Linked DNA regions of Homo sapiens. The protein of the gene in region 1 interacts with the protein of each later gene in a pairwise test. Each region holds a gene or a part of one and is shown in the gene's direction. Other genes may lie near its edges. The genes, in order: RBFOX1, C1orf94, RBPMS2 and FAM168A.

Region 1 (8,612 bases):
CCTGTGTCCTCTTTGAGCTCGTCAGGGAGGCCCTCCGTTTGGAAGAATCCCCTGGGCTTTCCTTAAGTTAGCTTATGGTTGCCTCGGGTTAGGAAGAAAAGTCATCATTCCTCGCGGTAGTGGAAGTGACACCTTAGGGGTCCAGAGAGTGGAGCTTTATGGCTCAGAAGAGCACAGGGCTTCTGGATCCGTTATCTGCCAGCTGTGTGACCTTGGGCAAGTTGCTTTACCTCTCTGAGCTTCGGGTTGTCACCTGTAAAATCAGAGTTTCAGTCGTAGTTCTGTCCTCAGAGGGTTTGGGGGTAAATTACTTAAAGCACTAAACATTTAGAACAGTTTGGCACATGGTAAGTGCCTGAATTCTATGAGTTTTGTTTCTTTATTCTTTCAAGTAGATTCCTCTAATTTTTGAGCCTTGTAGCACCGAGTGGTACAGGAAAGGCAGGTGGCTTGCCTTATACACACACGTTTTCTTTTAAGTAAGGAACAGAAGCCTCAAGCTCTCCCATTCTGCTCTCTGCATGTTCCAAGGAGGATCACGGACAAGCTGCCCACCCACTGGCCAAGATATAGGTTGGTGGCATTTGACTTGCTGTCTTGACAAGCACCTGAAATTAAGTTTTTGCAGCAGTTGTACATTTCTTCTGACCCACTGAAAGGACTTGATCTCCTTGGCCCCCTGGGATGAAAGTATTACCTTAGCAAATCTGTTTTTTTTTTTTTAATTAGAACATCATTTATTTAATACATAGAATATTTTGAAAACACAAGAATCGAAGAATATTAGAAGTGGCTTTATCATTCCTCCTGGGATTCACACATTGCAATTAGTATGTTTAGATATAAAATTTTGTGGCCAGGTGCAGTGGCTCATGCCTGTAATCCCATCACTCTGGGAGGCTGAGGTGGGCGTATTGCTTGAGTCCAGGAGTTCAAGACCAGCCTGGACAACTTAGCAAAACCCTGTCTGTACTAAAAATACAAACAATTAGATGGGTGTGGTGGTGCACACATGTAATCCCAGCTACCCTGGAGGCTGAAGTGGGAGAATCACCTGAGCCTGAGAAGGTTGAGGCTGCAGTGAGCCGATATCACGCCACTGCACTCCAGCCTGGGTGACCAGAATGAGACCCTGCCTCAAAAACAAAACAAAACAAACAAACAAACAAAAAACAATTTGTGATAGTATCTAAACAATTTGTGATAGTATTTAATTGTATAAACATATAAACATCTGTGGCACACATTTGCCCATAAATGAACTGAATGCACAAATACCTTGATCCAGTTTTTAGAAAGAATTTTAGTTTTGTTGTGGCAAGAACACAACATGGGCTGTACCCTGTGAAAAGATTTCTAAGTATATCATACATGACTGTTTTAAGGATAGTATTGTATAGGAGATGTCAAGGAGTTATTTACCTTTACTGCATGAGGGATTCGGGGATCTAAAATCGTCAAACTCATAGAAGCAGAGAGTAGAAGGTTGTGGCCAGGGTCTCAGGGGCCAGGGAAATGAGGATTTGCTGATCTAATCAACAGGTATAAAGTTTCAGTAATGTTGTAATAAATCTTGCTGTCCGTAGAACGTACAGTTTTTTACATCACCCTGAAGCTACAGAGTTTTCCACTCAGAAATGAAGCTGAAACATGGGTCTGAGCGGGTTTCTCCTCCTGGAATTGACCCACTCTGCCCTATTTTTCTTCTCATTATAATTGAAGCTATATATATATATATATATAGAACCTGCTCCTGTAAGGTTTGAGCACAGGTCTTCTAGACATCCTCATGTCTCTGATGATTTTAGAAAAAAATTAAGCTTAGTCCTTTTAGCTCGAACCATCCCAAGCTATTATATTTTATCAAAGTCCTTTCTGATAGTACATATTTTTTGTATCCAGAAAATTGGGTCTGCCCTGTATAGGAATCTGACATTTCACCTTTCCAAAAATTAGACCATTTCGTTTGCATCCTTTAAGCTGATGTGTGGAGTAATGAACACATTCCAAGAGGGAAATCGTATTTGACACAGAAAATACTTTGGAGACGCAGCGATTTCCCAGTGGCGTGTAAGGAGACTATTGAAATCCTAGCACGTTTGCTCTGAAGGACAGAGGGCAGCTCGTCCTGCCTTTGCCACCCAGCATGGGAGTTACACAGTAAGCATCATCCACAAATTAATACTGGCTGACTTTCCTAAAATCATCCTTTAATCTGTCGCTTTCACATTTACCCACAGTGTCGTGCCGGAGACCTCAAACACCGAGGCGACGTTTTTAAAGAAGCCACGAGGCTCTTCCCAATGTCTACCTCCATTATTTAAAATACTGCCTCGAGGCACAGGTATAAATATTAAAACTTTAATTAAAGAATCAATCAGTGATGGAGCTTCAAAACAAGGGGATCTAGCACTTTCAGATGATGTCAACTGTGAACACAGTTAGACTCGGTCGTAGGGCTAGGAGTTTTTATGAAAAATGACGCGTGGAGTTATATACACAGGCAACTGTCCTCATTTTTTGAATCTGTAGTCATTGTGAGCACTGTCACTCATTACCACTGGTTTGTCATTGTTCGCTAGTCAAAGAGACATGGGTGACTGTGGCCTGCTGCTACAGAAGAGTGTGTTGTCTTAGGGGAAGGAGTGGCTAATGCAAGAAATATTTATTTGGAATGTACCACATGTTAGACCCTGTGCTTGGTGAATAAGGCAGACGAGAACTTTCCTTTCTTGTAGCTTATATTGTCGTGGGGGAAGCCGCGTCATAAGCAAGACGTTGAAATATATTTTCATAAGGATAATGAAAAGGGTTCCAAAAATTATAGTGTGATAGTGACTTGGGGGGACATTCCAGAGAGGAGAGATTTGACCTGAGAAGTACATGAAAAGAAGTAGCTGATCTGTATGGATCCATACATTTATCCAATGAGTATTCTACTCATCTCCGCTTTCTTTTTTTTGAAACAGAGCCTCACGTTGTATCCCAGGCTGTAGTACAGTGGTGTGATCTCATCTCACTGCCACCTCCACCTCCTGGGTACAAGTGATTATTATGCTTCAGCCTCCTGAGTAGCTGGGATTACAGGTGTGCTCTGCCACGCCTGGCTAGTGTTTGTATTTTTAGTAGGGATGGAGTTTCCCCATGACTGGTCTTAAACGCCTGACCTCAAGTGATCCACCCGCCTCCTCGGCCTCTCAAAGTGCTAGGATTACAGGCGTGAGCCACCACGCCCAGCCTCATTCACCCCTACTTTCTATGAATTCCTGAGTGTTCATCAGGCACCCACTGTGTGCCAAGCACTATTGAAAGCACTTCAAGTGCAGAGTGATCAATACATGCAGATACCTTGTCCTAAAAGACTTCCGTTCTAGGATAGTTGTCTGCATGGAGGGCGTTTCAGAGAAGGGGACCAACAAGCACAACGATCCAGAGGCTGGAATAGTGACAAAATCATACAGTTGAAGGTTGGTCCTATAGGCCCTTGTGGCCTGGGAAGGGACCCTGGCTGTTATTCTAATGGGAAACCATTGGGGGATTTTATGCAGAGAGATACCAGGATATATTTATGTCTTAAACATTATGGGAAAATTGTTAGGTGTTTTTGAGATGAGTGAATAAACAAGCATGCCTTCCTGGCCGGCCGGCTCTATTTTTTCAAAGTTTCAATTCATTTCTATGACCAGATTTGGTCTGTGGACGTAGTGACATCTGAAAAGGTAAGCCTTGCAACGTCTGAGAAATTAAACTCGATTCCCCACCACCACCTACTTCGTAGGGCTTACACTAAAATCTTTCATTCAAGAAGAGGGATTACTTTATAGGGAAAAAGAACCTCATTTTCCAGTAATGTTCTTTGTGTGAGGGTGGAAGACCCTGGGAGGATACATCTGTATACATTAGCCTACTTAGATTTTCTTTCTCTGGGGCCTCCCTTCAAAGAGGCAACATCATGTGTTCTTGTGTGCCTGCATGAGCAGCCGCACCCTCCCACCACCACATCCTTTTGATGGCTTGACTGACAAGTCTCCTGGGAGTACCCTGAGAACAGTTGCACTCAGATGCCCTTTATTGATCGTCTGTCCGGGTAGGTTCCCTTTCAGAGTATGGCCACAGATTCTCCCATTGGTAGGTGTGGGCCAGGGTAATAACAGATATTGACAGTGCAAAGTGGGTTGCTTATGGAGAGCTCTGAGTGCAGCCGACGTTGTCCATCTTCAGAGGCTACCCTGCCCTTAGAAGGTTGAGGTGCAATTTGTTGGAGGGTTTGGACACCTGGACAATTCAGTTTTCCTCCCACATTGACTGTCTCTTTATCCACAATACTGGAACTGCATTATTGCCTATTATATGTGACATGAACATCAGAATAAGTGTACATGGATTGAACTCTTCCTATGTAGCACAAGCTGAGCCAAGCACTGTACCTTCATGGCTGTGTGTTGTGCTATGTGTTTCAGGCATGTGATCGCCTCCCCCACCCACCCAGCAGTTCACCTTATTCGATTCCTGCTCATCCTTCAGGTTACAACTCAAAAGCCCCAGGCTTAGAGAAACTGTCCCTGTTTGCCTGTGTCGATTCTCGTTTTTTACAGCCATCCCAGGGGCATCTTATATTTTATTGAGTGACTCTGTTTTATCCTTTTTCTCTTACTCCACTCCATGGTCAACTGCAGGTGGACCATGCATACACCTGTTTGGACATCACTGTCTCCTTAGCATCTAGCGTGGTGCAAGGCACACAGCAGAAGCCCCATATGGAAATAATGAATTATTCCATTTGATGCTTCTCACACACTTTGAGGTTAGTGCTTTTCAGATCCCCATTTTGCAGATAGAGAGTGGGGTGTAGGCAGGCGTTAAGCAATTTGTCCAAGGACACAACAGCAGGTAAGAGGCACTTCCAAGATTTTGAACCTGACAGTCTGAGTCCACAGCCCCTGATGCTCATCACTGTGCACATGGCCTCTTTTGCTGCCTTTGCAAGATACAAGGGAGGGTGGGAGGCAATGTGTGCAGTGGTTAGGGAGCTCTTGCTGCATAGCTTGAGTTGCTCTGAGAAGTGATGCTGAGCCCATTAGAGCCACAAAAGGAAAACAAGGCACTTGTTTCTATTTATTGCAGTATTACTTTATCGTTGTGTAAGAGCCTCGCTAGATTTCTGCACTGGTGCAATCTGGCTCTTGTTTTGTTGTTTGTCTCCTTGGAGTCTCAAGGCCCTGGGTTGCCCAGGGCATCTCTGGCCTCTTTATCTAGGCTCACGCTCTGAGTATGATTTTGAGGGAGCGGTTGGACCACCTGCCTGGTTACAGGCAGTCCTTGGGCATCATGCAGTCACAGCTGGAGCTGCTCTGATAGCCACTCAAAATGTGGTGTGCAAACCACTGCTCACTCCATCTAATCACCGTCATCTGAATCAGCTTCCCTCTTCATTTCTTCTGAGAACAAAATTAGATCTTTGCCAGCATAATGGATGAACTTGTGCAATCACCTTGTTCATTGCTAGTTCTGCATTTCCCCAAGATGTTGATGTCTCTTTTCTGTGAATTTTAGAATATAGAGTGTCAGAGATGAGGGTGAGGACTTGAGGTTTTCAAAATTGTCTTCTTTGTACCATGGTTGGGACCCTAATAGCTATGACACTCACTGGAAGCTCCTTCTGTGCTAGGGCTTCCTGTGTGTCATTTCATTAACTCTTCATGGCAAACCCTTTATTATACCACTTGACAGATGAAGGAACTGAGGCCCAGTGACTAAATGGCAAACCGAGATTGCAGACTCAAGCAGTTCTCTTCCCCTGCTGTGTGTGGAGAGGGCATGCTTGGGATGCAGGGAATAGCAGAGGCACCATGATAAGGTACTAGGAAGGAGGCAGTGCAGGTATTTCACTGAGATTCCAGAATCAGTGTGTCTGGCTTGAGATCCCAGCTCCATCACTTTCTAAGTCCATAACCTTTCACTTTCTTCAATTTCTCTGAACCTCAGTCCATCCCTACAAATGGAGATTATCACTACATTGTACAGTCCGTCTGAGGATTAATCAGCCTGGTAAATTATTTTAGCAAAGTGCCTGGCACCTAGTGTGTGTTTAGTGCAAGTAGGAGTCATAGGGCTGACTATGATAATCATGACGATTACTATTATCCATTGATAATAATGATATCATTATTAACCTTGTTTTTGTTGCTAGAATTTCACAATCCCTTTGGGCAGCAAATTGGTCCCAGAATGTGCTTCGTATATTTTCCTCTTGACTGTAACTGAGGTGACAAATTGAGAGTGAAGGGGGAAGAACCCAGCGTAGCTGCAAATGTACGGTTGAGATCGTTGACAGACTTGAGGCCCTGTGTGGAGTTCCGCCTGCAGAGGATGCTGACAGCAGCCATATGCATGGGCTCTGATTGATTGGCAGAGAGAAACACTAATTTATTAGACTCGTTATGAAAAGTGACGGAGCAGGGGATTGAGAGGGCTGATTCAGCAACAGTAGCCCTGGCTAGATCCCAGGGGTATTGGCTTGGTGTCTGTTTCCCTTGGGACCAGCCCCCTGTCTTGATTCTGGGTCACTGCCTGTGTTCTCAAGTGAGTCTCCTGAAGATGTCCATGGCATGGCTCACTTTTACCACGTTGTAAATGTCATACCTATTTCTTCAGTATCCTTAGAAAGCTGAGTCCAGTTCAGGTTGCTGTTGATTGCAAAGGCTGATAAGAGGAGGGAGGGAGTGTGTGCATGCAGAAATTCCCCAGTGGAGGGAAAATAGTCCTTTTCACAGGTTAGAGAAAGTGCAGTAGTTTCCTTGAGGGAGAATAAAGGGCATGGTTGATACCTCTCTTTAAGAACATGATGACCGGGCATGGTGGCTCCTGCCTGCAATCCCAACACTTTGGGAGGCTGAGGCAGGAAGATTGCTTGAGCCAGGAGTTGGAGACCAGCCTAGGCAACATAATGAGACCCTGTCTCTGTTAAAAAAAAAAAAAAAAAAAAAAAAATTAGCTGGGTGTGGTAGCTCATGCCTGTAGTCCTAGCTACTCAGGAGGCTGGGACAGGATTGCTTGGCTCTGGGAGTTTAAGGCTGCTATGAGCTGTAATTGTGCCACTGCACTCCATCCTTGGCAACAGAGCAAGACCCTATCTGTAAAAAAAAAGAACATGAAGCTCTTTGTAGAAAGATTTCTCATTTCTGATTTGGAGAGATTGTTCAGTCTGAATTACAGCAGGTAGGATGCTGGTTAAAGAAGTGTCTTGCCTTCAAGGTGATAAGGCACTGAATGGGGCTATGTTGGAGTCAGAAAAGCTTTGAGAAGACTGAATTCCCTGAGCGCCAAGGTGCGAAAGGACAAAGTCATGGCAGCCAGGTACACTTAACTTGTGGATCCAGATTCTGCCACTTCCTGGCTGTGTGAGCTTGGGCCAGTTACTGCACCTCTCTGAGCCTCCATTTACTTGTCTATTAAAAGGCAAATGATTCTGTCTCCAAGGATGGCTACCTGGGAGTGAGTTAAGTCAAGCAGCAATCACACAGACTTCCGAGCTAGTCACTTCTTATTTTTTTTTACCTTGTGGTATTCAGACAATAGCCTCTCACCCCATGACTCTTTGATACAAAAGGTTCCCTAGTTAGTGTGCTGTGATTTGTGGAAAGATATTTTGTTTCCTAGTGAATTTCATTCATTTTGCTCAGGAAACTTTATTGGTTTTGTCTGTGTAAACCTAAAATAATCTTCAAAAGTTCATAACAAGAACAAGGAACCATCCACCCCATTCTATAAACTTATTTCTACTGAATTGTGCTTCGCTGGTGTCAGTTTATAATGAGAAATAGTATAAGAAAGCCGATTAGCCACAAATTTTAAAAACTTGACATTATATATGCACACTGAAAGAGGATAGACTATTTAAAGTTTGAGAATTTTTACAGTTGAATCTAGCATTTGAAAGAAAAACATGGCCGGGCGTGGTGGCTCACGCCTGTAATCCCAGCACTTTGGGAGGCTGAGGCGGGTGGATCACGAGGTCAGGAGATCGAGACCATCCTGGCTAACATGGTGAAACCCCGTCTCTACTAAAAATACAAAAAATTAGCCGGGCGTGGTGGCGGGTGCCTGTAGTCCCAGCTACTCGGAAGGCTGAGGCAGGAGAACGGCGTGAACATGGGGAGCGGAGTTTGCAGTGAGCCGAGATCGCGCCACTGTACTCCAGCCTGGGCGACAGATCGAGACTCCGTCTCAAAAAAAAAAAAAAAAAAAGGGGAAAGAAAAACATGTTATTGAATGTAGGTGAGGGATAAGAACCAAGAACTTCTGGTAAGAACCCAGCAGGACAAGCGAGCTATGAAGAATTCAACTCTCTAATGTTATTTGCTATGATTATTATTGTTATTTTTTTGAGACAGAGAGTCTCATTTGTTGCCCAGGCTGGAGTGCAGTGATGCAATCATGTCTCACTTCAACCTCTGCCTCCTGGACTCAAGTGATCCCACCTCAGCCTCTTGAGTAGCCAGGACCACAGGCATGTGCCACCAAGCCTGGCTAATTTTCGTGTTTTTAAATTTTTGTATTTTTTTGTAGAGTTGTGATTTCACCATGTTGCCCAGGCTGGTCTTGAACTCCTG
Region 2 (6,337 bases), on another chromosome or scaffold:
TTCTTTCCTCCCTCCCTCCCTCTTTTCCTCTCTCCCTCCCTTTCTCTTCCTTTCTCTTGTAGAGTATATCATGGTGTGTTCTACCTAACACACCCAGGGAAACGCTGTGTTGACACATGTAGTTAATTTGAATTTAGCCTGCAGGGGACCTATAGATGAATAGGACATGCTTCTTCCCTTCAGAGAACTGAGAGCAGATGAAATGTGGGCACAACAATGTTAGTGCCCTGGCAAAGTGAAAACCATCAAAGTGGCCCGAGGACAAAGGCAGAATCCCTGCAGCGGGGGAGGTTCCAGTGAGCAGCACTGGGAGGAGGGCATTCCAGGCAGGAGGAGCAAGGCCCTCAGATGGGAAAGCAAGTGGCAAGCTGGAGGCCTGGGGAATAAAGGAGTCTGGCTGAAGAATTAGATTTGTCTCTGAAAAAGGTGGAAAATAGGATTGGAAAAGGGAGGTTGAGACTAGATTATGAAAGGCTTTGGACTGCTAGGCCTGGGGATCCAGGGAAGATTTATGCACATCAGAGTGAATTGATGGGCTGGAAGTAAGAGAAAGAGGAAGCAGGATAGGGTGGGGTCTAGAGGTGGCTCTAGGGGCCTATGGGACAGATTATCATCCCCTGGAGGTGAGAATAGAGACCCAGACAAGCCCCCTGCAGGTTGGCCAACTTCCCACATTCTGTGCTGTGACTCTGGGCTCTGGGAAGATAGACTTGCTGTAGGAGATAGCCCTGGCTGTGTCTGGGAGGGAGGGTGGTCTCAATGTCTCCTCAGTCAGCTTTCGGGAACCACCGACTGGGAGCTGTGAGACCAGAAGGTTGAGACTTGGTCTCCACATGTCTGCAGAGGTCGGAGGAGTGGGTAGGCAGCCCGAGGAAGGAGCAGCCTGAGAAGTGAGAGACAGCCTGGGGAAAGCCAGAGACAGTGGAGGCAAAGAGGAGGGTGAGGAGAAGGAGCAGGGTGGATTGGCGTTCTGAGAGGCTGGGGAGACCAGGACCATGAGGTCGGAAAAATAATGTAAGGGATGCAAGCCTGAGTACCCAGAGGGGATGATCTGTTCATTCAAAAAATATTGATCCAGCACCTTGTATGTGCCTGGCACTGTTGTAGACACCAGGGATAATGAAGTGAACGAAAAAAAGGTTTTCCTTCTCCTAAGGAGCTTTCATTCTAGAAGGAGAAATGGACAATAAGGAGATAAACAGGCAAGCATGCAAGGCCAGGTCCTCAGGATATGGGTTGGGGTGGGGAGAAGAATCAAGGGCAGCCTCTTGAGCCAAGATCTAAATGAGATGAGAGAATGAACCACACATACATTTCGGGGATGAGCCTCTGGGCAGAAATAATAGAAAGTGCAAGGGCTCTGAGGTGGGAACCTGTGGCTGCAGCACAAACAGTGAGGGAGGGAGTGCATGGAATTAAAATAAGAGGTAGCCAGGGCCAGACTAGACAGGGCCTGGTAGGCATGGCTAGAAGTCTTGTTTCAGGAGCAGTGGAAAACCATGTAGGCTTTTAAATTGATGAGGACATGTTCTAATCTTCTATATAAAACAGATCACATTGGTCAATGTCTGAAGAATGGACTATGAGGGTAAGAGCTGAGGCAGGGGAGTAGGCTAGAGCTTTATAGTTGAGCAAGAGGCATTGGTGGGATGGATAAAGGCAGTGACCCTGGGAAAGGGGGCAGGTGAAAAGATCTGTGATGTGTTATTTTCTTGGTAGAATTGGTGGGACGTGATGATGGTTGAATGTGTGATGAGGGAAAGGGAAAAGTCAAACAAATTCCTTGGTTTTTGACTTGTGCAACTGGAGCAGCAGCAATGCCAAAACACTAAGGTCATTGGGCCAGGCACAGTGGCTCACGCCTGTAATCCCAGCACTTTCGGAGACCGAGGTGGGTGGATCACTTGAGGTCAGGAGTTCGAGACCAGCCTGGCCAAGATGGTAAAACCCCATCTCTACTAAAAATACACAAATTAGCTGGGCATAATCGTGGGTGCCTATAATCCCAGCTACTCGGGAGGCTGAGGCAGGAGAATTGCTTGAACCAGGGAGGCGGAGGTTGCAGTGAGCCGAGATCATGCCATTGTATTCCAGCCTGGGTGACAGAGCACAACTCCATCTCAAAAACAAAACAAAATAAAACAAACAAACAAACAAAAAACAAAAAATGACCAAGGTCATGATGACCACAGCAAGGATCTGTTTACCAAGAGTCAGTCTTAGACATGTGAAAATTGAGAAAGTCATTAGACAGATGGGTGGAGCTATGGATAGGTAGGTGCATATAGGAGTCTGGAACTCAGGGGAGAGGTTGGGGCTGGTAATACGTTTGGGAGCCATTCTCATATACATGATATTTCAAGGCAAGGGATGGGATGGGATGAGATGGCCCAAAATACACAAGTATAGAGAAGAGAAGAGATCCAAGGGCTGAGCCTTGAGACTTCCAGCATGTAGAGGCTGCGGAGATGTGGAGGAACCAGCAAAGATTCTGTGAATAAGTAGGACTATCTAGTGAGGTGGGGAAAAAAATGGGAAAGTGGAGTGCAGGAAGCCAAGTGAAGAAAGTGTTTCCTGAACAAAGTGCTGGTGTTGGGGTGGTGACGCGAGGTGCTGATGGAACAAGATCAAGGTGAGGCTGCACCTGGCTGGGGAGTATGCATGGGCCTAAGCAGAGAGTTCAGCATGGAAGACAAGGAAGGTCAGCAGAAAAGGTGGAATCAAGAGACAAAACTGTGTGAAGGGGAGAGGAAGGAGTGAGAGGCTTCCATGTCCTCAGGGAAGGAGAAGTAGAGCCCTCCCCTCTGCCAAGTCAATTTGCACACATTCATCATGGTGGAATAACCATACAATTTATCTTCCAAGCAATAATAAATTTGAGAGTTAAAAGGAGTACAGATAATAATTATATCAGGCCAGACACGGTGGCTCACAACTGTATTCCCAGCACTTTGGGAGGCCAAGGCAGGTGGATCACCTGAGGTCAGGAGTTTGAGACCAGCCTGGCCAACACAGTGAAACCCCATCTCTACCAAAAATACAAAAAATTAGCCAGGTGTGATGGTGCACACATGTAGTCCCAACTACTGGGGAGAATGAGGCACAGGAATCGCTTGGACCTGGGAAGCAGAGATTGCGGTGAGTCAAGATCATGCCACTGCACTCCAGCCTGGGTGACAGAGTAAGACTCTGTTTCAAATAAATGAAACTATAAAATAATTATACCAGAAATACCAACATAGAGGCCGGCCCAGGCAAACCAGGACATATGTTCGTCCTACTCAACAGGCAACTCAAGCTCCTCCTCCTCCAGGAAGCATTACTTGTTAACTCTCGTCCACACAGATTGCTCCTCTTCCTGGCCCTCTAGCGTACATACTGTCTAGATCATGCCGGTGGCCGTTGATCTGATCAGAAGTTCTCAACCTGGAGGACCTAGCTGCATGTGTGCCAATCAGATATGAGCTGTGTCATGATCATTGTTGATTACTGATAATTGTTAAATACTGAAGTATGGGTTACAGCCTTTATTTTGTAAGTCAGAGTGGAAGGCAGGGTATCCCTATAATAACATCATTATGATTTCTGAATGATCCCAATATGATTTCTGAAAGAGAGAAACAGAGGTGGGGTTACCGCTGGCATGGATTGCTTATGAGGGACCCACATTGTGTCAGGCCCTGGGCACATGATATGAAATAGGTAAAGTCTCTGCTCTCTTGGCACTTATTTTAGTGAGAAGCTAGTGAGACAACCCAGCCCAACTTGCCCATGGAGACTCAGTGAGCAAGAGACAGAGTTAGCTGCTGAGGCACTACAAATGAATGCCGTGGTCTATTTCCATTGCTTCTTCCCTCCTCTGCTCCCGCTTTTTGTTTCATCAATTCATAGAAGGGTACCATGAATGTGAATCTCTTCTATAATATGCATCTGCCCAGCTGAAAAGTGATTGAGAATCCCAGGATTAGATTAAATCTAGCCATTTGCTCTATTGTAATTTGTATTGAGTTCTGTTCCCATTCATTCAAAGTATCTGAGCAGATGGGTGAAGAAATTACAGTAGGATTCCAGCAGTGTGAGTAAATGATTCCATCTGGAGAGGTCAGGGAAGTCTTCACAGAGGAGATGGCTTTTGAACTCTATTTTGAAGTATGGATAGGAGTGTGCCAGGGAGAAAAGGAGAGGCGTGTGCATTTCTGCTCTTAGACGGTGAGGCTCACGTCTTAACCCTTCCTTCCCTGAGGGTCTAGCAAAGCCCTAGGCACTCAGTGATGTCTCAATGCTTATTTCTGAGTCAGGGATGGAGTGAAGGGCCTGATTTAGCTTAGTGCTGGAAGGGGAGGAGGGACTCTGGGATTGTCCAGCCCCAAAGACCTTATGCTGGACTTGCCTCTAAGTTCTCTGATGTTGTAGATTTTCCTGAGGGACATGTCTGGTCCTCTAAGGCAGGTAGAGTGGTCACAGGAATACAGGTAAGATGCTTAGGTCCAGAGAGGGTCCCTGTTCTATGGGTCTTGGGCAGGGAGAGAGTGTAGGCTCCATTGAAACAATCTTTACAGGCTCCCAGGGACTTCCTGATCCAAGTAAGCATAAGGAGAAGCGCTTGATTGTCCTCTAATTGTATTATTTTAATATTTTACTTTCCCAGGGCCAAAGCCTTTCTTATGCCAAAGCCTTTACCCTCCAAGCCTGTCATGGTCTTCACTGTTTCTGACAACCATAAAATTAATATATATATTTTTCTAATTCTCTCCGATAACATTAGGAATCTCATCATGGCATCCACCCTCCCTCTCTTCCAGGTTCGGCTCGACATCCGGAGGGCCCTTGATGCACAGCCCCTATTTTTCTTCCAGTGGGAATGGCATAAACTTTTAGATCTCCTCTTCTCCCTTCTCCTCCCTTAGCCCTTGGATCAGGACTAGGGGCTCTGATTTTTGGATTCTGCAAAAGCTTGGTATGAAGTTTGGAAAAGCAAGGTTCTGACCAGGTCACAGACAAAACAGCAAGACCAGATTCATCTATTGGCCAACACTGACACAAAAATAGCCCTCCTCACACATGGCACAAGCTACACACACACACACACACATGACCCTCATATTCATACTTGCTTGCTCAACCACTTATGCATCTATATTTAGCTAACATGAGTGATTTTTGTTTTTGTTTTTGTTGGTAAAATAGAAGTAAGACACTTAATTTTAGAAAGTTTGTATTTTATGATAAAAGTATGAGCTACTTGAAATGGAGTGTGCCTGTTTATTTTTGTGGTGTTCTGTGTAATCTTTACCTCTCATTTTCCCCACGAGACTCAGCGTTTACTCAGGGCATGAAAGGAGACCACAGGCTGGAGTCCTCAGAGTGCTGCTATCTAAATATTGGACCTCAGGGATCATAAGTGAGAGGGCTTATCTCTTTTCCCCTGTGATCCACTCACCTCTCAACATCCCAGTGTATGCATCTCAGGAAGGGACATCATAAACGGAATGCACTCTGTCCTATCCCGAGTGGAAGTTTTCCATAAAAAGTCTCTTTTGGACAAACGATTGGGAAATGTAGCCTGGAAAACAATTTCAAAATTGATGCTAAATGTGGCAGACTATATCCAATGATTGTACATCAGTACCAAGATAGAGGTCAATGTCAAAACTGCACCTAATGGTGGCATCCTTAGACCTGTCTTGTTCAACTCTTACCAATGACTCGAATAAGGACATTGAGAGCAACTTGATCACATTGATGGAGGACATGAGTCTGGGAAGAGGAGACAGCCTGGATTTGTGACAGCACACATTCTTTAACTCTTCTGTTGCACCCCCTTGGCAGACATCGCTAATCAGCTCTGTCATTCTATCCCCATGAGTTTGGAGAAAGCCACAGAGTCATTCTTCCTGTGGTGCCCCAGGCAGCTGTCACTGATCAGAGTTGGTCTATGAAATGAAACCCATGTGGCATGCTCTCACAGTGTAACCCCATCGGCCTCACTGGTCTTTCTTTCTGGGTCCCTGGAAACCAATTTCTCTCCCAAGTTCCCTCAAGACTTATGCCTTCTTACATTCTTCATGGCCTAAGTCTAGGATTCCCTGGAAGTCCTTCAACTCCCTTCCCCAATGCTGGACCCTACTTTGGGCATTTCTTGTTTCTTCTTGATAGCCTTGGTTAACAGTCTGTCCCAAAGGTCTTTCTTATATTGTACTTCTAGGTATTGATCCAGGCTAGACTATAATTTGCCACCCTCCCTTGATCTCAGCATTTTGGGAAACAGGAGACAGTAAAAGAAAAATTATGGGTTTGCCTTTGGCCAGACTTGGCTTCTTAGCTGCTTTCCAACTAT
Region 3 (8,612 bases), on another chromosome or scaffold:
AGTACCTTTTCTGGGAAAGAGGGCAGGATTCTCAAAAAGTGGAATCCCTACTATTCCTCCTTGGGAGTTGAGATGGCCTGCGGCCCTATGGTGGTTCCAAATCCGCGCACTTGGAAAAGGGCATGGTGGGCTCGCGTTTAGCAGAGGTCCAGAACAAAGGGTTCTGAGGGTCTCCTGGAGCCCAGTGTCTGTCTGGTCTGGTAAGGGAAAGGGTTATTCCCCAAGCCCTGGCCTAGTCTTCTGAATAGTGGGCCATGAGCCCCTGTGCTGGTGGCTCCATCTTGGATTGGTGGTGTAGGCTGGAACTGGAATCCTCCCTGTAGTTTAGATGCTCCCTAAGCAGTCAGTTCTGCAGCCCCTAAGAGCAACCATCTGGAGAATCAGCGTTAGCAGTGGTTTACTCCCATGGCTGACACAGGTGGCTTCTTCCCAGTCAACTCTTGGAGACTAGCGAGAGCAAGCCCAGGAAACCAAGGAATGCTGCTGCACGCCGTAAGACCTCAATTCCTAAAGGCGCTGGGTCACTGGCGAAGGGAGTGTATTTTTCATGGTTCTGGGAGTTATCAGTGAGGTTGCTTGTCCTGAACTGCTTTGGATAGCCTTGACTCTGCCTGCTTGACTACCTTACCTATAGGCTTTATCCATGTCATACGCATTAAGTTTTCTTTCTGGACCCAGGGGTTAAGGATACAAGTGAAAATTCTCAGCCTAGGAGGTCGGAAGGACTTGCCAGGAAGTGGTGGTAGGTGAAATGCAATGATAGATAAAATAAAGGCATATGAGCACATGGTACCATGGTGCTCCTGAGAGATTAGAGGTCAGCCTTCCCTGAGATGTGGGTGAGTAGGAGGAGCAAGGTTAGACCTGTGGGGGTGGAAAAGGCATTCCAAGAGGAGGGAGTCGCATGTATAAGTGAGGAGGTAGGTTTGTGTAACCACATGGCTTGTTTGGGTAACTACCTGGAGTTTGCTATATTGCAGCAATATCAGGCAGTGCAGCCATAATGAGAGTTTGGAATTAGGGCAGTAATGACTGTGGTATTACGGGAAAATTGGCATTTTTCTGCCACTTGGGAAGATGTGTTCGAAGCTTTGATACCCTTTGAAAGCTAAGGAGGGCAGTAAGGAATTAAGGGGAGGAGCTGAATGTCCCTCCCAATCTAGAGGTTGTGCTGTCCTGCAGGTAAGTCTTGACTGGAGCTGGGGACGACATGAGGTAATACAGTACATGAACCTGTCCGGGGCAGGCTGTATCAGTGCTGCCAAACTTCAGACCTAAATGTCCTGTCTTAGTGATTCTCAAGGGATAACTGGGTAATTACCATGTCTCTGAAGAGGGGTAAATGTGATTTCTATTTTGAAAGTGGAGACCTTGCTTTCATAATACAGTTGCTGTTGGCCTTCCATTTCTATGGGTTCCCTATCCATGAATCCAGTTGTAGATAAAAAATACAATAATAAAAAATAATACAAATAAATATAACAACTATTTACATAGCATTCACATTGTATTAGGTATTGTGAATAATCTAGAGATGAGTTAAAGTATCCAGAAAATGTGCATAGGTTATTTTTTTATTTGTTTGAAGGGGAGTTTCACTCTTGTCACCCAGGCTGGAGTGCAGTGGCACAATCTCAGCTCACTGCAACCTCTGCCTCCCAGGTTCAAGCAATTCTCCTGCCTCAGCCTCCTGAGTAGCTGGGATTACAGGTGCCCGCCACCATACCTGGCTAATTTTTGTTTTTTAGTAGAGACAGGATTTCACCATGTTGGCCAGGCTGGTCTTGAACTCCTGTCCTCAGGTGACCTGCCCACCTCAGTCTCCCAAAGTGCTGGGATTACAGGCCTGAGCCACGGCGCCCAGCCTTGTTTTGTTTTTGAGACAGTCTCTGTTGCCCAGATTGGGGTGCAGTGGCGCAATCTCGGCTCACTGCAACCTCCTCCCAGGTTCAAGTGATTCTCCTGCCTCAGCCTCCAGGATTGCAGGTGCACGCCACCATGCCTGGCTAATTTTTGTATTTTTAGTAGAGACGGGGTTTCACCATGTTGGCCAGGCTGGTCTTGAACTCCTGACCTCAAGTGGTCCATCCAGCTCGGCCTCCCAAAGTGCTGAGATTACAGACGTGAGCCACCGTGCCCGGCCTGTGCATAGGTTATATACAAATTTTATATAAGAGACTTGAACATCTGGAGATGTTGATATCCAAGGGGGAACCCTGGAACCAATCCGCCTCAGATATCGAGGGACAACTAAACGGTACGAGGTGATACTAAGTTATAGTAATTTTTAAAAACCACTTTTTTGAGGTATGATTGGCATATATAAAGGTGTATATTTAGTGTATACAACTTGAAGAGTTTGGAGATTGTTAAAGTAATTTTTAACTGGGGGGCACCCCTGGAAGGGGGAGAGTGGTATTTATACTATTGGGTTGAGGGAGGATATAAGTTTCTTAAGAGTTAAAAAAGTTTTTGCCAGCTTAATGGTAAGCTATAGAAAGGCAGGGGTTAATGGCAGCTAAGGGGGCTACAGTTTGACCTGAGGGGCTTTGCCCTTCCCTGCCCTTCCACCTCATCCCAGTGTGGCTGGGACAGGGCTGCTGCTTGCAGGCCTGGTATCCTAGAGCCCATCATGTGTCCTCAGAGGGGTGTCAGGAAGCAGCCAGAGCCCTGGGACCACTGGGTGGCTTGAGGTCAGCCCTCCCTGAGATGTGGGTGAACAGGTGCTTAGACTTGTGTGGATGGAACGGGGAGGGGGGTGTGGGAGGTGGGGGATAAGGCACTCTAGATGAGTGCGAGGTAATTCCTGGATCCAGTGTGCTATTTGGGCACCTCCCTTTTCTTTAACATCAATAGCATTTGAAAGCATCTGGGACATCTTGGTCTGCAGGCTTTTTTTGAATATGAGGGAATGGAGGCTTCTCTGTTTCTGGGCACTCACCTAGAAGCCCTGCCAGGCATATAGCAGTAGGAGGTCAGGTTCCCCTCCTCACTGGGAGTTATTGTGGATGTGTCCCCTCTGCCTAAGTAATCTAAGGGAGAGGCTGTACTAATAATAATGAACCTGTATGTTGTATTTATGCCAGGCATTGTTATATGTTCTGCACCATTTTAACTCTTAATCTTTGTAAGAGCATTATGAAGTACTTACATTATTATCACCATTTCATAAATGAGGAAAGTGAGGCACAGAGAGGTTAAATAACTTTCATGTAGCTATTAAGTGGGGAGGTTGGGATTTGAACCCAGAGTTTGCTCTTAACCACACAGTATACTGCTATTGTGTTTTATATTAGGGTTTTTGGTGAGACTGGAAGGCAGGGGGAGAAAGGTATCTGCAATTTTCTTTTTTTTTTCTTTTTTTTGAGACGGAGTCTCGCCATGTCACCCAGGCTGGAATGCAGTGGTATGATCTTGGCTCACTGCAACCTCTGCCTCCCAGGTTCAAGCGATTATCCTGCCTCAGCCTCCCAAGTAGCTGGGATTACAGGCGCGCACCACTACGGCCAGCTAATTTTTATATTTTTAGCAGAGACGGGGTTTCACTGTGTTGGTCAGGCTGGTCTCGAACTCTTGACCTCCTGATCCTCCTGCCTCGGCCTCCCAAAGTGCTGGGATTACAGGCGTGAGCCACCGCGCCCAGCCGGGTATCTGCAATTAAAGTTTCTAATGGCTGAGTTTTGGGTGATGCCAACCAGAAGCCCAGAGGCTGACTCCGGACTAGTTTCCTTTGGGCTGGTGGCATCCCAAGATGGGTGATGGGAGCTGTCAGCCCCTGCCAGGAGGGGCCTTTTATCACAGATATGATTTAGAGTTGCCATTGCACGAAGATAATAAACAAACCAAGCCAGTTTTATTTTATTTTTATTTATTTATTTATTTTTGAGATGGAGTCTCGCTCTGTCGCCCAGGCTGAAGTGCAGTGGCGCGATCTCAGCTCACTGCAAGCTCTGCCTCCTGGGTTCACGCCATTCTCCTGCCTCAGCCTCCAGAGTAGCTGGGACTACAGGCGCCCGCTGCTACGCCCGGCTAATTTTTTGTATTTTTTAGTAGAGATGGGGTTTCACCGTGTTAGCCAGGATGGATTTTATTTTTTAAATTCTTTTTTTTTTTTTTTTTGAGACGGAGTTTCGCTCTTGTTGCCCAGGCTGGAGTGCAATGGCGCGATCTCGGCTCACCGCAACCTCCACCTCCTGGGTTCAAGCAATTCTTCTGCCTCAGCCTCCCAAGTAGGGGGATTATAGGCATGTGCTACCACGCCCAGCTAATTCTGTATTTTTAGTAGAGATGGGGTTTCTCCATGTTGGGAGGCCTCGGCCTCCCAAAGTGCTGGGATTGCAGATGTGAGCCACTGCACCTGACCTAAATTCTTTTTTAAAAAATCTATATCCTTACACATCTTGCATATTTTTAAAATTCTTTTTTTTTTTTTTTTTTTTTTTTGAGACGAAGTCTTGCTCTGTCGCCCAGGCTGGAGTGCAGTGGCACGATCTCTGCTCACTGCAAGCTCCGCCTCCCGGGTTGACGCCATTCTCCTGCCTCAGCCTCCCAAGTAGCTGGGACTACAGGTGCCCGCCACCATGCCCGGCTAATTTTTTTGTATTTTTAGTAGAGACGGGGTTTCATCGTGTTAGCCAGGATGTTCTCAATCTCCTGACCTGGTGATCCACCCACCTTGGCCTCCCAAAGTGCTGGGATTACAGACATGAGCCACGGCGCCCGGCCTTAAATTCCTTTTTTTTTTTTTATAGACGGGGTCTCTGTTGTTGCCCAGGCTGGAGTGCAGTGGCATGATCATAGCTCACAGCAGCCTCGATCTCCTGGGCTCAAATGATCTTCCCACCTCAGCCTCCCTAGTAGGTAGGACTACCAGCACCATGCCCAGCTAATTTTTTTTTTTTTCCTCGAGACAGAGTCTTGCTTTGTTGCCCAGGCTAGAGTGCAGTGGCGCAATCTCGGCTCACTGCAATCTCTGCCTCTTGGGTTCAAGTGATTCTTCAGCCTCATCCTCCCGAGTAGCTGGGGTTACAGGCACCCGCTACCACACCTGGCTAAGTTTTGTATTTTTAGTAGAGATGAGGTTTCACCATGTTGGCAGGCTGGTCTCGAACTCCTGACCTTAGGTGATCCGTCTGTCTTGGCCTCCTAAAGTGCTGGGTTATAGGTTTGAGTCACTGCACCTGGCCTCGGCTAATTTTTTGTAGAGACAGTGTCTGCTTTGCTGCCCAGGCTGCTCTCGAACTTGTGGCCTCAAACGATTGTCCTGCCTTGCCTCCCAAACTGCTGGGGTTACAGATGTGAGTTGCCACGCCCAAGCAGTTTTATTTTAAATTCTCTACAAATGGCACACTTACTTATTTCCTGTACCTGGGCGTGACTACTTTCACACACTCCTCCACTACCCATTGCTTTGGGCATTTTAACTAAAGAAACGATTCTTGCTCTAAAGAGCCATTTGGCTGATATTCTGGGGGACATTCTTTTGTGTCTCGTTATCCCTTCCTTTTCCACATACGGGCAATCTGTTTAGTCTGCCCCAGAGAGAACCAGTTTCTAAATCCCACTCAAGGAGGCCAGCCAGGCATGTTGGCTCATGCCTGTAATCCCCTGCATTTTGGGAGGCCAAGGCAGGAGGATCACTTGAGCCTGGGAGTTCAAGACCAGCCTGGGCAACATGATTAAACCCCGTCCTTACAAAAACAAAAAAGTAGCTGGGTGTGATGGTGCATGCCTGTAGTCCCAGCTACTCAGGAGGCTGAGGTGGGAGAATGACTTAAACCTGGGAGGCAGGGGTTGCAGTGAGATCGTGCCACACTGCACTCCAGCCTGGGTGACAGAGCGAGACCTTGTCTCAAAAGAAAAAAAAATCCCACTCAAGGCTGGGACATGCTGGCTTCCTCCTCCCCATGTCCAGGGTGGGACTGGCAAGCGCCGTAAGTAGAGGAAGCCATGGCTGGTGGGTGCTGAGCCTTTGCTTGGCTCTCATGCTCTGAACCCTTTTATCCTTCGGGGCCTCAGGACAATCCTGCGAGCTGGAGGCAGGGTGAGTCCTGCCTGCCCTGAGTACTGAGCTCCTGGTCCAAGATTACCCAGAACTGAACTACAGTGCTGGGTTCTGGATCTGCTCTGGCATTGGTTATGGGCAGCAGCGACATCTGGTGTCACGTCACTTCCTCTGTCTTCCGCCCATGGCTGCCACAGAAGGATCCACACGCCTCTGGCAAACCATGAGGCAGTGGGGCAGAACCTGTCCCCTACACTTCAGAAATGATGCTGCCTAGCTGGGCATGTTGGCACACGCCTGTAGTCTCAGCCTGTCAGGAGGCTGAGGTAGGAGGATCGCTTGAGCCCGGGAAGTCGAGGCTGCAGTGAGCCAGTATCCCACCACTGCACTTGAGCCTGGGTGATAGAGTGAGAGCCCCTGTCTCAAAAAAAAAGAGAGAAAAAAAAAGTAAAAAACCGAAAAACTCGGTGGCTTATGCCTGTAATTCCAGCACTTTAGGAGACTGAAGTGGGTGGATCACTTGAGCCCAGGAGTTCAAGACCACCCTGGGCAATGTGGTGAAACCCCATCTCTACTAAAAATACAAAAATTAGCTGGGTGTGGCCGTGAGCACCTGTAATCCCAGCTACTCAGGAGGCCGAGGCAGGAGAATTGCTTAAACTTGGGAGGCGGAGGCCACTTAATGAGACTTGGTCTCAAAAAACAAAAACAGGCCAGGCACAGTGGCTCAGGCCTGTAATCCCAGCACTTTGGGAGGCTGAGGCAGGTGGATCACGAGGTTAGGAGATCGAGACCATCCTGGCTAACACGGTGAAACCCAGTCTCTACTAAAAATACAAAAAAAAAATTAGCCGGGTGTGGTGGCAGGCGCCTGTAGTCCCAGCTACTAGGGAGGTTGAGGCAGAAGAATGGCGTGAACCCGGGAGGCAGAGCTTGCAGTGAGCTGAGATTGCGTCATGCAGTCCAGCCTGGGATACAGAGCGAGACTCCATCTTAAAAAAAAAAAAAAGCCACCATTAAGTCAGAACTGTGGGCAGCCTATGAGGCTTCATATGCCAGAACCCGTCCACTGCCTGTCCAGGCACTGGCATAGCCTCCTTGTATTCTGCTTCTTCCCATATTCCACCCTTTGATGGAGAGAGTACGGTTACTTCTGATACGTGCCAACACTAGACAGGTGACAGGATTGTTGGGCCCTCCCTTCCTGAAGAGTGCACTGGTGGCTGTATCAGCGTTGGAGGCCTCTGGAGTGCAGCAGGGCCTGGGTGTGGTGGGAGCGTTTGCCTAGGCGCATCTGCCTTGGCTGTCAGTCAACTCACGGCCAACTGAGCAGAGGCTCTTGACTGTCACAAGCTATCAAGGCCACCTCCAACCTCCAAGGAGGACGGACAGAGCCTGACTTGGACCAGGCCATGGCAGAAGTCTGGAGTACTTCGCCCTTCTTTGTGGTTAACCAACCTCCCCCTCCTCAACTATCTTTTAGTGCAGGTAGGGGCAGGGAGTTAGGAGAGGATACTGGCATAGGAGCTGAGACCATTTTTTTTTTTTTTGAGACAGTCTCGCTCTGTTGCCAGGCTGGAGTGCAGTGGCTCAGTCTTAGCTCACTGCAACCTCCGCCTCCCAGGTTCAAGCAATTCTCCTGCCTCAGCCTCCTGAGTAGCTGGGATTACAGGTGCCTTCCACCATGCCCAGCTAATTTTTTACACTTGATCTTAGCCAAAAGGCAGAGAAGCGATCTGGCTAATTTTTTGTATTTTTAGTAGAGATAGGGTTTCGCCATGTTGGCCAGGGTGGTCTCGAACTCCTGACCTCGTAATCCGCCCACCTCGGCCTCCCAGAGCGCTGGGATTACAGGTGTGAGCCACCGTGCCTGGCCCATTTTTGAAGAACTATTGATGAAAAGGCTCTGCACCTTCCAGTTTTTGCCCAGACTGGTCCCCCCCCGCCCTTTTTTTTATTCTGACACAGGATCTCGTTTTGTTGCCCAGGCTGGAGTGTAGTGGCATGATTACGGCTCACTGTAGCTTCGAGCTCCTGGGCTCAAGCAATCCCCCAGCTTCAGCCTCCTGAGTAGCTGAGACCACTGGTGCATGCCACCATGCCTGGCTAATTTTTTTTTTTTTTTTGAGACGGAGTCTTGCTCTGTCGCCAGGCTGGAGTGCAGTGGCGTGATCTCATCTTACTACAGCCTCCACCTCCTGGGTTCAAGGGATTCTCCTGCCTCAGCCTCCCGAGTAGCTGGGACTACAGGTGCACACCAACACGCCGGGCTAATTTTTGTTTTTTGCTTTTTTTTTTTTTTTTTTTTTTTTTGAGACAGAGTCTCGCTCTGTCGCCTAGGCTGGAGTGCAGTGGCGCAATCTCGGCTCACTGCAACTTCCGCCTCATGGGTTCATGTCATTCTTCTGCCTCAGCCTCCTGAGTAGCTGGGATTACAGGCGCACGCCACCATGCCCAGCTAATTTTTTTGTATTTTTAGTAGAGACGGGGTTTCACCATGTTGGCCAGGCTGGTCCCGAACTCCTGACCTCGTGATCCGCCCGCCTCTGCCTCCCAAAGTGCTGGGATTACAGGCGTGAGCCACCGTGCCTGGCCAGTTCTTCTTTTT
Region 4 (8,612 bases), on another chromosome or scaffold:
GTTATTAGCAAGGAGTGCCCCACTGGCTAACTAGGTTCGGTGTGGCACAGTGCCCAGTGCCTTTTAAGCTACCATGGCCACAGCTCAGTCCCTTCAGAAGAGATGGTAGTCCAGCAAGGTTCATGTAATGTGGTCATTATTTGTGGGCCTGTCTTTGAAAGCAGCTTATAAATATACCTCCAGATGATATTTCAGACAACAAAGAGTGCTCAGTTGATCTGGTGACACACAAAGGCTCCCAAGTTGTTACACATTAATGAGAAAGTGGCTGAGGAATATACCAGAGCCCTAGGCCACAGTGTCAGGTAGTAGGAGATGGTTATTCATGGGCATCTTTGTGGTTTTAGTAGTAGGTAGAAAGTCCTGACTCTTTTAGTGTAAGTTCAGATTTCCTTGATTTCAAATCATTTGGAAACATACTTCAGCACTCCTCCTAACCCACTCAACCATCTCAGAAAGGCTGACCATCCCATGTGTCTGAACAGGCCCCTTGGGTTGTATGTTTCTGTCCAGCACAAGACCCTTGCTTTGTGTCTGTGATTGGTGGTGGCCACTTCTTATTTCTGTCTAATGCCATTCTTGTGTCTTCCCTTAAGCAACTCTGCTGATGAAACAGGCCTGGCCACAGAACTCGTCTTCCTGTGGCACTGAAGGCACCTTCCACCTCCCAGTGGACACCGGGACCGAGAACCGAACTTACCAAGCATCCTCTGCGGCTTTCAGTAAATACAGCCTGTCTCATTTCCTTGTTCCCCTTGGTTGGGACTGATTTGTTTCTTAGGAAGAAAGGAAAGGGAGCTTTTTAAAATGACATTTATGAGATAAATAATGTTTTAAGAGGTTCTTTTACCCAGGCAAAAAATTACCCCTCCTTATTCAGGAAAGGTCATTCTCTTTGATCATGCACTCAGCTTTGGGGAAACACAAAGCACTGAGGGAAGGAGAAGGAAATACTCACCTGGCCAACAAGTTGATTGGGGAAGGACTGTTACTGCATTTTAGGGGGAAAGGACAGAGGGCACATTTTGAAGGTCTGTGGGTCTTTGGACAGAGAGGGCTCCCCCCTCTAGCACAGGGCTTCTTAATCTCAGCACTATTGACATCTAGGCCAAATAATTCTTTGTTGTGGGGGCGCTGTCCTGTGCATTATAGGATGTTTAACAGCATCCCTGGCCTCTACCCTACATGCCAGTAGGAAAGCCTCATTGTGACAACCAAAAATGTTTCTAAACATTGCTAAGTGTCCCTTATGGGGCAAAATTGCCCTCTGTATGAGAAACACTGCCCTAGTGCAAGCTGCACTGTGGGACCAAGGTGTGTATGAGGAGTCTTCAGGGAGGCCAGAAACCAGCTAGCCAGTCAGACTGGTCATATTCATCCTGAGGCTCAGTAGGGTAACTGATGTTGTCACCGTCACATCTAATTTTTAACACAAAGTGGTTCCACTGGGGAAATGAGGACCAATGTTTAGAAATTACTGAGTGGCAGCCGGGCGCGGTGGCTCATGCCTGTAATCCCAGCACTTTGGGAGGCCAAGGTGGGCGGATCACGAGGTCAGGAGATTGAGACCATCCTGGCTAACACGGTGAAACCCTGTCTCCACTAAAAATACAAAAAAAATTAGCCGGGCATGGTGGTGGGCGCCTGTAGTCCCAGCTACTCAGGAGGCTGAGGCAGGAGAATGGCATGAACCCGGGAGGCGGAGCTTGCAGTGAGCCAAGATCACGCCACTGCACTCCAGCCTGGGCGACAGAACAAGACTCCGTCTCAAAAAAAAAAAAAAAAATGAAATTACTGAGTGGCATTTTGACTCCATATAAGGAAGAACTTTGTGTCTTGTTGGAGCTGTTCAATAGAGGAATGACTGACTTTGGATGTGGTGAGAACTTCTCTCTTAAGTTGTGAGGGCTGGATAAGCCCTCAAAGGGATATTCCAGGCAAGGCCTGATAGTGTGTGGTTCCACAAATTATTAATCTACTAAGTAAGTAGACTAGAAGAATTCATTGTATTTTTTTCTTTTCTTTAAAACATCTGTGTTAGTCTGTTCTTGTGTTGTTATAAAGAAATACCTGAGGCTGGGTAATTCATAAAGAAAAGAGGTTTAATTGGCTTACGGTTCTGCAGGCTGCACAAGCATGGTACCAACCCCTGCTTAGCTTCTGGTGAGGGCCTCAGGAAGCTTACAGTCATGGCGGAAGGCAAAAGAGGAAGCCAGCATATCACATGGTGAGAGAGGGAGCAAGGGGCTGGGAAGGTGCCACACTCTAAATAATCAGAGCTCACTCATCAGCAAGGGGATGGTGCTAAGCCATCATGAGGGATCTACCTCTGTGATCCAGTACCTCCCAGCAGGCCCCATTTCCAACACTGGAGGTTACATTTCAGCATGACATTTGGAGGAAACAAACATCTAAACCATATCAACATCCAATGTCATTTTCTCAAGTTTTCATTGCCCCTAGATGTCAACATCAGTTTATGTTTATACAACGTAACTCACCTTTTGTAAAATATAGTCTCATAATCACCCTTTCATTTAATCTACATTACACTCAGTCTACTAAGTTATTTAGGTGGATTTTCATCCCAGTTTGAACGATGAGGCCTAGAAAGGTAATAGGTCCAACGCCACCCAGCTAGTAAGCAGCACAGCCGGAAAAAGGTATCACCCAGGTTAAGATTCAGTTACTGACTTTTCTCATGAGATTGATTTTACTCTTTAAGAGAGGTATGTCAGGCCAGGCGCGGTGGCTCACACCTGTAATCCCAGCACTTTGGGAGGCCGAGGTGGGCGGATCACAAGGTCAGAAGATCGAGACCATCCTGGCCAACATGGTGAAACCCCATCTCTACTAAAAATACAAAAAATTAGCCAGGCATGGTGGCGGGTGCCTGTAGTCCCAGCTACTCGGGAGGCTGAGGCAGGAGAATGGTGTGAACCCAGAAGACGGAGCTGGCAGTGAGCCGAGATTGCGCCATTGCACTACAGCCTGGGCAACAGAGTGAGACTCCGTCTCAAAAAAAAAAAAAAAAAAGAGAGAGAGGTATGTCAGCCATAAGGAGTTTCTCCAGATACCTCAGGTAGAATGAATGAACATACGTAAGATTATATATATATAAAAATAGGGATATACATGTTCTCTCTTACATCTAAACATCTGGATATAGACGCATATAGGCACACCTACTGTAGTGTAGCAGAAAGCAGCCTGGAGTGGAAGCTGCATTGAATTCTAGACTGGGTTCTGTGTAACCTTGGATAATTGATGTCCATGCATTGGACCTTGATTTTTCAAACTGCAAAATGAGGGAACTGAACTAAATCATCTCCAAGGTTCTTTCTTGCAATTAGACTCCTTATCTCTCAGCAAGATGATGTGTACTCAGCGTCTTCCACCCCAACAGGGACCACCTCTCTAGCTGCCCTTAGCTGGCCAACAAACCATCTCCAAAAATGGAGTACTCATTCCCTTCAGAGGCAACCCTTTCCACAGGAAGTCTGAGTAACAGAAGGCCTTGCCTTCTACTATGTTGAAATCTTCCTGAAATCCCATTAAGTGTCCAGCAGCCACATCCCACTGTTCCCTCCCAGACAGGCTATCACAGTCCCTGAAAAAGACCAAAATGTACCCACCCCCACCTTTTTTTTGAGACAAGGTCTTGCTCTGTCACTCAGGCTGGAGTCCAGTGGCACAATCACGTCACACTGCAGTCTCAAGCTCCTAGGCTCAAGCAATCCTCCCTCCGCAGCCTCCCATGTAGCTGGGACCACAGGCATGCAAAACCATGCCCAGCTAATTTTTTTAATTTTTTGTAGAGATGGGGTTTTCCCACATTGCCTAGGCTGGTCTCGAACTCCTGGGCTCAAGCTGTCTGCCCACCAGCTACCATGCCTGGCCTACCTCTGTTTCAAGCAAGTAATGTATAAACCTGTGCCATTTTTTAATGCAGTTGGGGTTGACTGGCCCTCCCATACTCAAAAAGATTCCTCCCAGCATTCAGATTTTGTGGCTTCTAGTACCACAGAAAATTCAGGGCACTTTGACAAATTCAGTTCAATTTCACTGATACTTGCTAAGCCTGTTTGTAATTAGGTCTCCTGCTGATTCATCACTGTCTCACTTGGCTACCAACAAGGAGTCTTAGGGGTCAAAGCAAGATTCAGACATAGAGCTTTATTTTGTCCAGACATATAAATCTGATGATCAATAAACCAATTAGTCTAAAAGGCATCCGTGATGCAAGGATCAAGCCTTTGAAGGTGGTAGGGCTTCTACAACTGAAAAAGATTTATGACAGTGAAAAAGGATTGCAGAAAGCGCTGAAAAGGTTTTATCTTGTTAATGTACATACTCTTTTTATTATCCCATTTGATTCTAAAATTATGGTTAGGAACCTAAGAGAAAGAATAGGACATCATAAACAAAGCCTCTTTTATAAGGCAGAGCTGGGACTTCGAGTGATCTAATTCATTTTTTCTTTCATGATATTGCCTTTAGTGAAATGGGGACAACAAAGGCCAGTATATTAAATGCCCAAGATTGGACTACAGAGACTTTAACTCAGCAAGAGCTCTGCCTAGGGCAGGGTGAGCCCTGAACTTTGGGCCTAGCTGTGTACTGATGTGCTGTACAATTTGGGGAAAATCTGTCCTTCTGGGCTCCAGGTTCTTTCTCGGAAAAGGAGGAGGTTGAATATAAACCTCTAATGTCCTTCAGGCACAACATTCCAAAGTCTTAATTCTGTGACCTTCAGACTTAGAATTCCTTTCAGGATAGCCAGGCCTCCAGTGAGTGAACTGAGTCTAAGTTCATTTGGGCAAAATCTGTGAGACTTTTTTGCAACAAGCCCAACAGCTTCTTTTACTTAGATGCATAAAGTAATAAACCCTGATTTTTGTGTCACCCAAGCTCAGGCTATAGCTCCAGGGGAATTTTCAGTGTTCCTCAAGAGTATTGACAGGACCACTAGTAAATTATGGAAAGTCCTCTGAAATGATTTCCTCATGAAAGTCTTCTGAAATACTCAGAGACCTAGAATGTCAGCACTAGAGAAGTTCTCTGATACTGTCTAGTCCAAATGAGGATATTCCCTGAGAGGAATTGACCTGACTTACTGACAGAACCTAGGATGAGGGCCCCCAGGCAGTTTCTCCAGCCTCATGAAGATCCTCCTGACAAATGGTAACCTTGAGAACCACTGTGGTTAGAGGAAGTAGCACTGAGTCTTAGATCCCCACAAACAGCTCTCTCTTTCAGCAACTACTCATTATCTCATCTGTGAAATGTTTACGTTGGTCTTAATGATCTCTGAGTCTTCTAGCTCTGCAGTTCTGCTTCTATCTCAGACTGTCTGGACAAACAAGCAAGGCCTTCTTCTGCAGCATCATCTCTTTGGCTGCCAAGGGTGTTTTGGCTACTGATTTGTATTCTGAGTATGTGTGTGTCTCATTTCATAACATGAAGAAAGGGAAACATTCTCAGACAAGGTTATTCTTAGATGTGGGAACCAAATTCTACTGCAGTCTCTTGGAGCTTTTTGATTTTCCTCAGAGGGATAGTCTCACCACTTTGTAATATGGCTGTCCTTGTGGCATACAGTGGGTAATCCAGCTTCCCCAGGGAAGAGAAAAATTCCAGAGCACATTCTCCAGGAGCATAAAGGAAAGTCATCAGCATCTTTGGCCTGTTAACTTTAAAGAATCATAAAATCATGGCATTTTAAGCCATAACATTTTAGAATCTTAGAATCCTGGAGTCTGTGTTCCAAGCTGGGACAGACCATAGTAGTCATAGATTAGCTTTAGTCTCTCAGACCAGGCTCTGCCTGCATACCCTTAGGACAGAAGCTTACTGTCCCTATAAAGTGAGAGAGAAAATAATAATAGCTGATCTTTATAAAGTGCTTCTAATATGTCAGGTACTGTTCTAAGTGCTTTTTACTTAACAGTTAATGTATTTATCACAATGAAGTAGGTACCATTACTGTTCCCATATCACACGCGAGACTGATGTATCCTATAGCTATTAAGTCTCAGAGCTGGGGGTTTGGACCCAGGCAGTCAGTCTGTCTCCAGACTGCTCATAACCATGGCTCTGTGCTACAGAGCTTTCAGAAACAGGCACCTTCTGATTCAGGGGTGTCCTACTCTCCTGCATAGAAAAGGGATGCTTTCAGCTCTGCTAGGTTTCTCTACACCTTGATATATTCCTTTAAATTAGGGGTCAGCAAACATTCCTGTAAAGGGCCAAATATTTAGGCTTTTAAAAAGGCCATATGCTCTCTGTCAGTGACTACCATTGTAGCAGGAAAGTAGCCTTAGTCAATATGTAAATGAATGGATGTGGATGTGTTACAATATAACTTTGTTTACCAAAACTAGCTTCAATTACAAAAAACATGGCTGAAATTTAATTGTTTTAAATGTTTATAGTATGAATAAAAGATTCTGTGGTAAAATTAATTTGGAAAATACAGTCTTGTACATACTCCCATCTTAGAGATTCACAGTTCACCTCCCCACCTTCTTTAAGAGACAGGGTCCTGCTCTGTCACCCAGGCTGAAGTACAGTGTTGTGATCATGGCTCACAACAGCCTTAGACTCCTGGGCTCAAGCCATCCTCATGCCTCAGCCTCCCAAGTAGCTGGGGACTACACCAGCCACCATGCCTGGCTAAGTTTTTTTCTTTTTTTAGAGATGTAGTCTGTCTGTGTTACCCAGGCTGGTGTTAAACTCCTGGTCTCAAGTGCTTCTCCTGCCTTGGCCTCCCAAAGTGCTGGGATTATAGGTGAGAGCCATCACATCCAGCCCATCCTATTGTTTTAAAAACTTCTCAGGGTCATGGAATAAAAACAAAATCTTAACTGTTTATCTCTATTTTACATATGGGACTATAGAACTCTTTTGTTTCCTTTTCTTTGGCAAAAACAACTATTAAGATCCCTTGGGATCTATAGTACGTTGTCCACATTTGGGAAATGTCTATCTCTGGTTTATCTATAAAACCCCTTTATTTTATAGATAAGTAAATTGTGTCTCCGTACACATCAGATGGTTCCTTCTAGACATCTGCAAAGCTAGTCTCCCTGTCTTCCCCCACAGTATCTGCTTCTCCTCCTATGACCACATTTCATCATTAGCTCCATAATCTAGAAACTTTGAGAAATCTGCTCTAGACTTCTCACTCAGCTCATAGTTGCACTTCCAGTTAGTTTCTACTTCTCTTTAACATGCTTCCCTCTCTTTCATATGTACTTTCCATTCTATCCTCATTGTTACTTATTTCCCAAGCATATTTGATCACAAAACTATGGAAAAAACTATGGATCTGCAGGTGAAAAAATAAATGACGTGAATCCAGGAACAGGCTGACTTTTGTGGCAGCTGTGCAGCAGCTCTCCTATCCTCCTGAGTCATCAGGGGCAGGGGGGTGCTAAGCCAAAGAGGTGTGATGTGGACTGAGAAAGATTTGTGACCATGTGGTAGTTTGCTTTTACTTGGGGTTAAGGTAGAAGAGACCCAGGATCTTTAGAACCATGGAATTTTTGTTTAGGAAGAGATCTTCATTCTTAGCCACCTGATTTTACAAAATAAGAAACTAAGGCCCAAAGACTTGACAATTGTCATGAAAAATTAGGGGGAAAGCCAGGACTGAAGACTAGATGTCTTCTCTTCCAATAAAGCACTCCCTCCACTCTGCCCCTAGTCCCTTATTATATGATAGAAACAGCACCTCGGAGCTGAAAGGGTCCTTGGTGAGCATCTTATAGGTGAAAGAGCTGAAGCCCAGAGAGGTTCAGTGAGGTCTGCTAGACTTACCCAAGATGGAACCACAGGAAAGAAGCCACCTCAGCACCTCCCCAGCAGGGCTTCAAAGCCTAGGTCCTCAGGCACTGTCCCTTCAACTTAGAAGAGTTTAGAGTCTTTAGGAGAAGTTATTAAAAAGACTTGCCTTTTCTGAGCCCAGGATCCCCTTGTGTAAAGTCCAAGGATTGGAGTCCCTTGATGATCACTTGGGTTCCGTAGAACGATTCCATTTTGTGATTCTAAAAGGAGACAGTGTTGTTCCTGAATGACTCATGTTTCAAGTTTTTTTCTGTGAACAAAGGATCTGTCACTCTTTTCCGGAGGATTAAAAGGCAGCACAGTTTATTTACATGGGCAATTGTGAGCTTCTTGGGGCCTGACTTCTCAGCCCCATTCTTAGCTCCAGCTTTTGTCCATCCTGCTGAGGGACAGACATGGCCCAGGTTCCAGGTTGATGTGAATCTTTGTGATCCCTGACTTCAGGTATTTTCAGGCAGAGGTGGCCTTCCCCTAGAGCCCAGGAGAGAAGGAGGAGCCAACTCTGCAGAGCAAAGTTTTTCAGCATCCTAGAAGATGACGATCTCTGAATGGTGTTTTGTATGGTCAGCATCCCAGAAGATGAGGGTCTCCGAATGGTGTTTTGTATGGTCAGCATCCCAGAAGATGAGGGTCTCCGAATGGTGTTTTGTATGGGGTTTTCACCTTCAAACTTGGTGGGGAGGGGAGGGAACATGATGGAGGGAAGTCCAAGAAGAGAGTGAGAGAGAGAGAGATAAGGAGAAAAAGAAATAGAGCAAAAGAGA

What was found.
Region 2: the proteins of RBFOX1 (region 1) and C1orf94 interact in binary tests that used the Homo sapiens proteins (3 or more experiments, as listed by UniProt).
Region 3: the proteins of RBFOX1 (region 1) and RBPMS2 interact in binary tests that used the Homo sapiens proteins (3 or more experiments, as listed by UniProt).
Region 4: the proteins of RBFOX1 (region 1) and FAM168A interact in binary tests that used the Homo sapiens proteins (3 or more experiments, as listed by UniProt).

What each region holds. Positions count from the first base shown.
Region 1 is NC_000016.10:6,021,545-6,030,156, forward strand, and holds part of RBFOX1 (RNA binding protein fox-1 homolog 1), read left to right. Parts: intron 1-8,612. UniProt on the Homo sapiens protein: RNA-binding protein that regulates alternative splicing events by binding to 5'-UGCAUGU-3' elements. Regulates alternative splicing of tissue-specific exons and of differentially spliced exons during erythropoiesis.
Region 2 is NC_000001.11:34,213,884-34,220,220, forward strand, and holds the end of C1orf94 (uncharacterized protein C1orf94), read left to right. Parts: intron 1-4,802; coding exon 4,803-4,878; 3' UTR 4,879-5,248; downstream 5,249-6,337.
Region 3 is NC_000015.10:64,764,932-64,773,543, reverse strand, and holds part of RBPMS2 (RNA-binding protein with multiple splicing 2), read left to right. Parts: intron 1-8,612.
Region 4 is NC_000011.10:73,411,984-73,420,595, reverse strand, and holds part of FAM168A (protein FAM168A), read left to right. Parts: intron 1-596; coding exon 597-722; intron 723-8,612.